3 separate regions of the Homo sapiens genome follow, and regions 1 and 3 are each linked to region 2. The links come from fine-mapping of genetic effects on gene expression. A gene starts in region 2. Each other region holds a variant in brackets. All regions are shown on one strand. Distances are between the middles of the regions. Region 1 overlaps LINC02288 (long intergenic non-protein coding RNA 2288). Region 2 holds the start of CIPC (CLOCK interacting pacemaker). Region 3 has its middle 17 kb from the start of ZDHHC22.

The links. PIP is the estimated chance that this variant, and not a neighbour inherited with it, causes the effect. A credible set is the group of variants that fine-mapping cannot tell apart.
Region 1: its variant is the best candidate, but not a certain one, in a credible set for the expression of CIPC in esophagus mucosa (GTEx, PIP 0.82).
Region 3: its variant is the best candidate, but not a certain one, in a credible set for the expression of CIPC in Th17 cells (Schmiedel 2018, PIP 0.87).

The regions. Positions count from the first base shown.
Region 1 is chr14:77,062,423-77,065,176 of GRCh38, forward strand. The region is part of intron 2 of LINC02288 (long intergenic non-protein coding RNA 2288); the gene reads left to right. Among named protein-coding and RNA genes, the nearest start is that of LINC02289, 12 kb to the right of the region's middle. The variant G/A (reference allele first, on the strand shown) is at 1,545.
Region 2 is chr14:77,097,187-77,099,940 of GRCh38, forward strand. CIPC (CLOCK interacting pacemaker) reads left to right here and starts at 1,072. Exons shown (of 4, transcript NM_033426.3): 1 at 1,072-1,175. LOC124903350 (a long non-coding RNA gene) reads right to left here and starts at 832. Exons shown (of 2, transcript XR_007064275.1): 1 at 690-832. RefSeq lists enhancers at 303-352, 714-1,543, 1,683-1,842 and a silencer at 533-682.
Region 3 is chr14:77,123,825-77,126,578 of GRCh38, forward strand. No RefSeq gene overlaps it. Among named protein-coding and RNA genes, the nearest start is that of ZDHHC22, 17 kb to the right of the region's middle. RefSeq lists a silencer at 1,186-1,415. The variant C/G (reference allele first, on the strand shown) is at 1,379.

The sequences.
Region 1 (2,754 bases), 35 kb before region 2:
GCACAGGAAGGACTGGCTGCTAGTTCTTTGGCTAAGCCTGAACAGGCTGGGTGTGGTCACACCTGCTTGCTGGACATGTTAGCCCAGAAATACATCAAAATTGGTGACAACCAAACAGCCCCCCAGACTCAGAGTCAAGTGGCATTTATGGGGTACCTACTATGTGCTAGACACTGTATGAGGCCCTTTCACAGGTGTTAGCTCTCTGGTAAAGCTCCCAAGTTTGCAGATCCCTTCTCCATCACCCTGTCTACAAGTGCAGATCAATCGTTAGTTCATGCTTGGTGCATCAGGACTCAGTGGCGAGCAGGACAGACATGGTATTTTCAGGGGCAACACAGCGGGGGAAAACAAAGAGATATACATGTGCCAGATAAGGAGCTATTGGTTGTTTTTAGGGCCAACTGTGAGGGTTCCCAGTGCTTTGTATCAAGAATGACTTTCTTTTTAAGGGTCTCTTGTAGAGAGAAAGAAATAAAGACAAACCACAGTTGGCTTGCGAGACTCACATTGGCTTTGCCCACAGTTACTGGTTTTTTTTTGTTTTTTTTTTTTTGTGAGACGGAGTCTCACTCTGTCACCCAGGCTGGAGTGCAGTGGCACCATCTCGGCTCACTGCAAGCTCCGCCTCCTGGGTTCACGCCGTTCTCCTGCCTCAGCCTCCCGAGTAGCTGGGACTACAGGCACCTGCCACTACGCCCGGCTAATTTTTTGTATTTTTAGTAGAGACAGAGTTTCATCGTGGTAGCCAGGATGGTCTCGATTTCCTGACCTCGTGATCCACCCGCCTCGGCCTCCCAAAGTGCTGGGATTACAGGCGTGAGCCACTGCACCCAGCCTGCTCACAGTTACTGTTAAACACCACAGTAGAACCTGCCAGTAGCTGAGCACACGCAGGGCGCCAGCCACTAGACAGCATGGTTATCCAGCCACTAGACAGCATGGTTATCCATCTCACTTCCTCCTCTTTCCAGCTGCCCCGCCTCTCCATGGGGTTTTTCACAAGACGATCAGAGACCCAGAGACCCAAAGGAAAGGGAGACAATGGGGATTGGAGGCCACGGGCTTTAGGGGAAGGTAGGGGGCAAAAAATAGAGCATATGCAAAGCCCTGTCCTTGTTACTTCCCTCCCCAATCTCCACCACCACCCAACTGGCATATGAACTTGTTCTTCTTGTATACAGCTCTGAGCAAAGCACCATATGGCAGTTTCATCAGGCCCACGGCCTGGTTTCCATCCAGCCCACTCTAATTTCCTTCCAGTCATGGATCTGCAGAATAACCCATCCTGTGGAAGGAGCTCAGAGGAAGAAAAAGATAACAATAACAGTAAAGATATACAGAGCACAAACCACAGCGGGGAGCTGTTCCAATTATGTGTATGTTTGACGCTTGCAACAGCTCTAGGAATATCGCTGTTAGCATCCCCATTTTATAGATGACAAAACTGGGAGACAGATGTTCCGAGACATTCTCAAGGTCACATGGCTAGTGATGACAGAGCTGGGATGGGAGCCATGTTAACCGTCAGACTTTGCTGATTC[G/A]CTGAATCTTGGCTAAAAGATGTTGGCAGGAAGGGCTGAGAGCTTAGAAGAAGGGGTCCTCCCGGTCTGGCTGGGACAGGGTGATGCCAGCAAAAAGGCCCCTAAATCCACAAGCAGGGGAGGGGCGGGGTCAAGGCCCGGCTGACCTGACTCCAGCAAGCAGGGTCTGAGCTCCATAAGTGGAGGTGTCAGGGAAGCATGCAGAGGACTGGGAAGCAAGGAAGACCCCTGGAAGCAGCCCCCGCAGAGGAGGGTCAGGGAGGGCTGGGGGGCCCCCAGGAGCCCCAGGAGCTTGTCCCTCTTTGGGCTTCCTTCCGTGGCTAGGTTCTCTGCTCACCAGGAGTAAAGGGTAAGCATCCTCTCTGAGCCTGCAGAGCAGCAAGCCTGCACTGAGGCATTGTAGGAATGAGTGGCCCCTGGGATGGAAGGACCTGGGTATGGGTCTCAGCTCCATATCTTTGGGTTGTGTGGCCAAATCACACCCCATCACTCCCATGTCTGTGAGCCTCATCTATAGGGCAGTTAAGGAATGTGAATGGGCTGAAGTATCAGGAAACCAGCTGGGATCCTATCTCAGAAGAGGTGTATAGTACATGATCGTGCCCCTAGCCCCCATTCTTCCTTCTAGAACAAGGAAGGAGAAAACAAAGGCTCCCCGGGCAGTGAAGGCTGGGCCCTTGGTAGGCTTGGCAACCATGCAATCTCTAGAATGGAAGGGCTCCTCCCTCAGAGCACAGCCCTGGAGAGTCACAGCTGTTGCCCTGGGTCTGGCAGGACGAGGGAGGCAGTGCCAGGCTAGATAGAGAGTTTGAGGGACTCTAGGTTGGCAGTGGGGACTGTCATGCCCTGGCTCCTTTAGGATTCACAGGCCAGAGTGGTGGCTGTAGCCTAGTCCTCACTGCCAGAGACCCCACACCACAGTGGAGCCTGCACCAGGCACAGAGGCAGGAGGCAGAGCCATGCTTGCCCCTTTCTGCCATCCCTAGGATGCTAGAGGTAGCATCCTCCCAGCATGCTGGCAGGTGCGAGAAGGAGCTTTACTTGATGTAGCGACACCCCTGCTTCCCCCTGAGCCTTTGGGTTCCTTCCCACTTATGTCCCCTGCTGCGGGTCCACATGAGGGGCTTCTCACCCCGAGGCTGCCTCTACAGTGTCCACTGGACAACCTGGCCACCGCAGCCCCAGACTCAGATCACAAGGCCAGGATGGG
Region 2 (2,754 bases):
TTCCCCACTATCTAAATCAGCACTGTCCAATATAACTTTCTGCGATGCTGGGAATGGGCTATATATAATCTGCACTGTCCAATAAAGAGGTCACTGAGCTCCTGAAATGTGGCTAGTACAACTGAGAAACTTATCCAGTCGTTAGTGACCATCTTACTGGACAGCTCAGCTCTTGAATCTGCCTCGACCCGTCAACTCTTTAAACTCGCCCATGTCCTCTTTTTCACTAGCGAAATAATTCTTTTTCTAAGTAACCTTCACTGATTCAAGGCATCAGAACGTCAACTGATCCCAAGCCCTTTTTTTCTTTAGCTGTTACACACGTGTGTTCACCGTGAACCTTCACCAAGAAACAGCATCCATATAAAACCCATAGCACATGACAAAGTCAGTCAAACATCAAAGGTCATGAAATCATCTACTTAAAATAACTCATCGCGCCTCGACCTCGTGAAGCACGGTCTCGAGGGTGGACGGGAACAAAAAACAAACAGGGCGACAGGCGTAGAGAAAATGCGAGGAGCACGCGGGGAGGTCTGGCACCCCTGTCACGGCGACTCCAGGCTGAGGCCGCCCGCACGCCCGCTCTCCCACGCCGGGCACTGTCGCTCCCGGCACGCGCACAGGCCGGACACGACTCGCCCCGGCCCCCACCCCCAACGGCGGCACGGCGGCACGGCGGCACGCACCAAGACAGTGCGAGAGTCGCTCCTCTCTCTGTATCGACTCCAAGCCGGCCCCACCCCCGGCTCCTCTGAACCCCGCCTGGAAACCTTGCCCAAGCCGCTCATTGCTCAAGGCCCCCGTACAAAATGGCGGCGAGGCCTGAGGAACCAACCATAGAGACGCCCGCCGGCCGCGGACAGAGCGTAGGCCTCTGAGCGCTGGCCCCGCCCCGCGCCGGCCTGGTCTTCCGGCGGGGGCGGGGAAAGGGCGCATTTCCAAGGGCCCTTCTAGGAGAACAGCGTGCGGTCTCCATGGTGCCGGGTCATCCGAGTCGGGTCACGTGGCTGGCGAAAGCCGTCGCGGAGGCGTGGGGAGGAGAAATGGGCGGGAGGCTGTGGGGATAGCGAGACACCCAGCGACGACGAGGTTGTCATGGTGCCGCGGGGCCGTGCTCGCGCATGCGCCACCTGACCCACAGGCCGGTCGTGGAGCTGCGACCCCGGCCCTAGGTGAGAAAGGGAGGGCTCGGTCCGGGAGGAGGGGAGCAGGGATGACGGCGGGAGAGGGATTGGGCGAGGAGCGTGGGGAAAGGAGGTGGAAGTAGGGGAGAGAGGAAGAGGAGCGAGTAGGCAAGAGGGGCAAACCGGGACTTTCGGAGGACGGAGAGCCAAATGGTGGGAGCAGGGCTTTGGTTTGCTGTGAGGGGCGTGGGAGAGGGAATCGCGGGTGAGGAGGGGGCTGCGTGTGGGGAGGAGGCTTGTGTGAGGGGCAGGTGGGCCCTGGTCTAGCCCTGGGCGCAACCGCCAGCCGGCTGGGCGGGGAGAGAGCTTGGAGTCCAGCCCGGCTGGGAGCTGAGGGCCAAGCAATGGGCAGGTGAGTGGGCGCCAGAACTAGTAACTGGGCGAGGGTCCTGGGCTTCCGGTTTGAGGTCGGGGGTGGTACCCTGTTCTGGCTCCAGGGCACAGGTGTGCTGCCTTTTCCAGAGACCTGCCGTCACCCTCGTTGCTGGTTGTTTCCCCTGAGTGGCCAGCTTGCCAGGCTTGGTGTCGGGGGTAGTGTTTCTGGGGAGAAGGTGGGCAGTGCCAAGTAAGGAGTTAAGTGGTTAGTGGGTGGGTTCGGGGGAGCTCTGATCCCGGCCCAGGTCACAGGCTGGAGCTAGGCTCCCTGTTATTGCTCAAGTCCTGGCAGTATGCATTGCCTGGGCGTTTGCCCTGGAAGGCTGGTGGTATGCCAGTCACAGCACAGTACTAGGGTCTGCCCAGTTTTGCCCTGCTGAGCTGGCAGGCTGGTGGATGCCTGGAGGGTGCACATGCTGCCTGGCACAGATGCAACGTGGGCTGGTGCGAATGGGTAGGTGGGCACTGTTACTGTGAACTAATTGCAGCAGGGGATCGGAGAAAGTTCTCTAAGCTCATCTCCCCTTTGAAAGGTGAAAATAGAGCCAAACTGGTCTAAAACATAGGAAATTGTATGGAATTGGGGTTCAGGATCTTTGACACGAATTTTCAGCCAAGTTGGAGAAATGGAATGAATGTGGAAGGGAAGATGAATATTAGACATTTAGGTAGACAGGGTTTTTCCACTGTTAAGATACCCAGACATTCTCCCAGAATGGTATCCCTGAATATGCAGGCCAAAAGAAAATGACTTCGGAGAAAAGCTAGTAATGTATTTATAATTCTAACGGGGATTACTCAAGGTTTTCTTTCTGTGACCTTATCACTTTATTGTATTTAAGCCTCTGGTTGGGCTTTTACCTCACACTTCTGTCCAGGCACACATGTTATACACGTGACACATTTTAAAGGGAACTTGAGCTTCCAGGAATGTTGCCAAGTGTCTATAAAAGGAGAGATCTGAAAGCAGCATTTCAGATCCTTTTCTTGTAACCCTGGATCTCCTTTTTAATCATAAGGACAAATCTTCACAAAGATTGTTTGTGGATTAGATCAACCCTTAATTTGGATGGTGGATTTGTCCCTGACGTTTCAACTTAGAATAAGGGGTAGATCAAATATCTGTTTCCTGCAGGGGACCAGACGTGGAGGTTAGATCTTAAGGTGACCGTGGTGTTTGGAAATGCAGAAT
Region 3 (2,754 bases), 27 kb after region 2:
TGCACAATCTGTCCTCCACACCTGCATCAGGTGAACTTCCTCAAACCTCTGCTCACTTACTGCCTTCCTCGGACACCTCCCCTATAGCGGTTCTAGCCTTGACTGTGTAGCAGAAACCTCTAGGGAGCTTTGAACATGCACAGGTCACATCCCAGACCTGTCAGACTCTGGGGAAAAGACCTGCCTTCCCCCACCCCCATGGATATTCTCTAAAGCTCCTCAGGGGATTGCAGATAGGCAGACAAAGCTGGGAATAATTGCAGTGGGTCCCTTGTGGGGGATTGGACTTGGGGCTGGGGTGAGGAGGCGTGGGGACCAGTTCCACACAGCGAAGTAACTGTCATCTGCAGTATCGCCAACACCTGGGAGCCTATGAGAAATGCAGAGTCACAGGCCCTGCTGATTCAGAATCTACATTTTACCAAAGTCCCCAGTGTTTCCCCGCACTGTCGAGTTTCATTAACACTGGCACCAGCTTTTACTAATTGCTCACGGTGCTCCAAGTGCACAGCCAGGTGTTTTACACACACCATCTCATTTAATCCTCACACCCCTCAGCTATGAGCACCCCCTTTGACAAACAAGGAAAAATCTGCCGTTCCTTCAACAAATCCTTCCTGAGCACCCACGTGCGAGGCTCTGTGCTAGAGACTGAGAATGAAAAACGGGCGCTCCCCTGCTGGGGAAGAGCTCAGAAGCCAATGGGATGTGGATTTCAATGTCTTCCCAGCTGTGTGTTCCTGGGCGACTTTCTCAGCCTCTCTGAGCTCGTTTCCTTTTCCTCTTCCGCCGAACAGGGCTAAAAATCACACCGCACAGGGCTTGGTGCCTTCCCTAAGCTAAGTACTCACTCACCAGGCCTGGTTCTAGCGGGAGCTCAGGAATGGTCGCTATTGTGACAAATAGAAAACCCGCCAGGAGACAGAGAGGAGGTGGGTCCCTGGACCGCGGTGGCACATGAGGGCTAAGAACCTCCCAGGAGGGGCTGGGCTCGGAGCGCGCTCTCGGAGACGCGGTGATGCGCGGGGCCCGGGCCGTGGACAAGACTGCAGTGTCCTGCACTACCTGCCGCCCACTCATCAGGCCGATTCTCCTCACCTTACGCTTAGATGAGTTTCGAGTAAGACCACTGCTGGCATCAAGAGTCTGGGCCCATGATCTCGCCCTTTCGGGCTAGGCGAGGCAGACCCAGGTTGGCTGCGGCCCGCGGTCCCCGCGCAGCCAACACTGGCAGCCAAGCGCGGGGCGCGCGCGCCGGGAGAGTGGAGCGCGGAGGCCCGACGGCGCCCCCTCCCGGCGGGCCCGAGCCACGGCCGCGGGCTCTGGCGGGTGCCGGGGAGGCCACGCGCGACGGCGTCGCAGCCGGAGCCCAGACAGA[C/G]GCCCCACGCTGCGCGGCCTTCATCCCACGGCTGGGGCGATGGAAAGGTGGTCCCGACACGCGCAGGGGTCTGAGGAATCGGCTTCGGGATTCTGTGGTCTTTGTGGTCCGCAGCCGGCACCACTGCTTCCTGTAATTTAATTTTCTCTCCCGAAAGCGTTGCTAATTAAATCCTTTCTCCGGCGAGCCGTCGCCCCCCGCCCCTGCTAGTCTGTTTATTAAGTACCCGGCACCTGCGAGGGAATTTTTGCCCTCGGCGGCCGGCGGGTCAGGTGGAGGGGCCGCGCTGCCCCTTAGCTGCGCCTCCTGGCTTCCTTCCCCAGGTCTCCTCCCTCTCTTTCCACCTGGAACAAGACAGCAATCCTTGAGGTCTTTGAGCAAACGCAAGAACCGTCCTTCTCCTGCTGCTGGTGACCTCTGCTGCTTGGGGCATCCAATTCATGTCAGTTCCCCTCCCCTGTCTTTCCAGCTGTTCAGTCGTATTCCCACTTCCCACCACCATCTCCCCGCACCGCACGCTGGCCACGTGGAAGGTTTGCGGAATGGGGCCCAGGGGCTTGTGGAAGGTCACGCAGCCCATCCAGGGCACAGTCGGAACTAAAACTGAGCCCTCTTGAAGCTTGGCTTTCAGGGGTCACAAACTCAAAGCCTTCAGGGGCCAGATAGCCAAGGGTAGAGTGTGGGGTGGCTCTGGGTTGGGCAATGGTTGGGGGAGTCTGTGGCAAAGTAAAAGGTATGTGCCCCATTGAGGGCCAGGTGTGTGCAATCCTCGCCAAGTCTAAGAGCGAGTCCAGTGTTCACGGAGGGCAGTGACCCGCCCAGGGTCACGCAGGGATTCAGAACCACTGGGTACTCCGGGTTCACAGTGTGATCTTTCCAGGATGCCACTTACTGACTGAGGACTTGGGAGCAGTCCTGCTCAGTCCTGCACCCCAGCCACCTCAGTCCTTGCCCCTCTGGCCTGCCCTGCCCAGGGTCACCACATCCCGCAGGGCCTCCTTCCCCACAGAGTACCTCACACCTTGGGCACCACTCTCCCCTCCCCTCTACCTAAAATCACCCCTTCAGACAGCTTCTGGCCACATCGCAGCTGTCAATCAGAAAAAGAAGGCAGCCTCATTTCAAGGTATTTGGTGGCAAATACCTCCCAGAATTTGAAACAAAGGGCCTGGGGAGCCAAAATACTATTTTGAAGGACACATTCATGGTAGGGGAATTTCAGGCATCACAAGCCAGCCAGAAAGGGGTATTTGGGGACAGGAAGGCTGGGGAGAAGCCCACACAGAGGACTGCCTCTTTGGAAGGCCTCAGCGCCAGCTCTGCTCCTCTCTGAGTTCCAGGTCAGCCCCCTGGTCCCCTCCTACACAGCTTTTTGG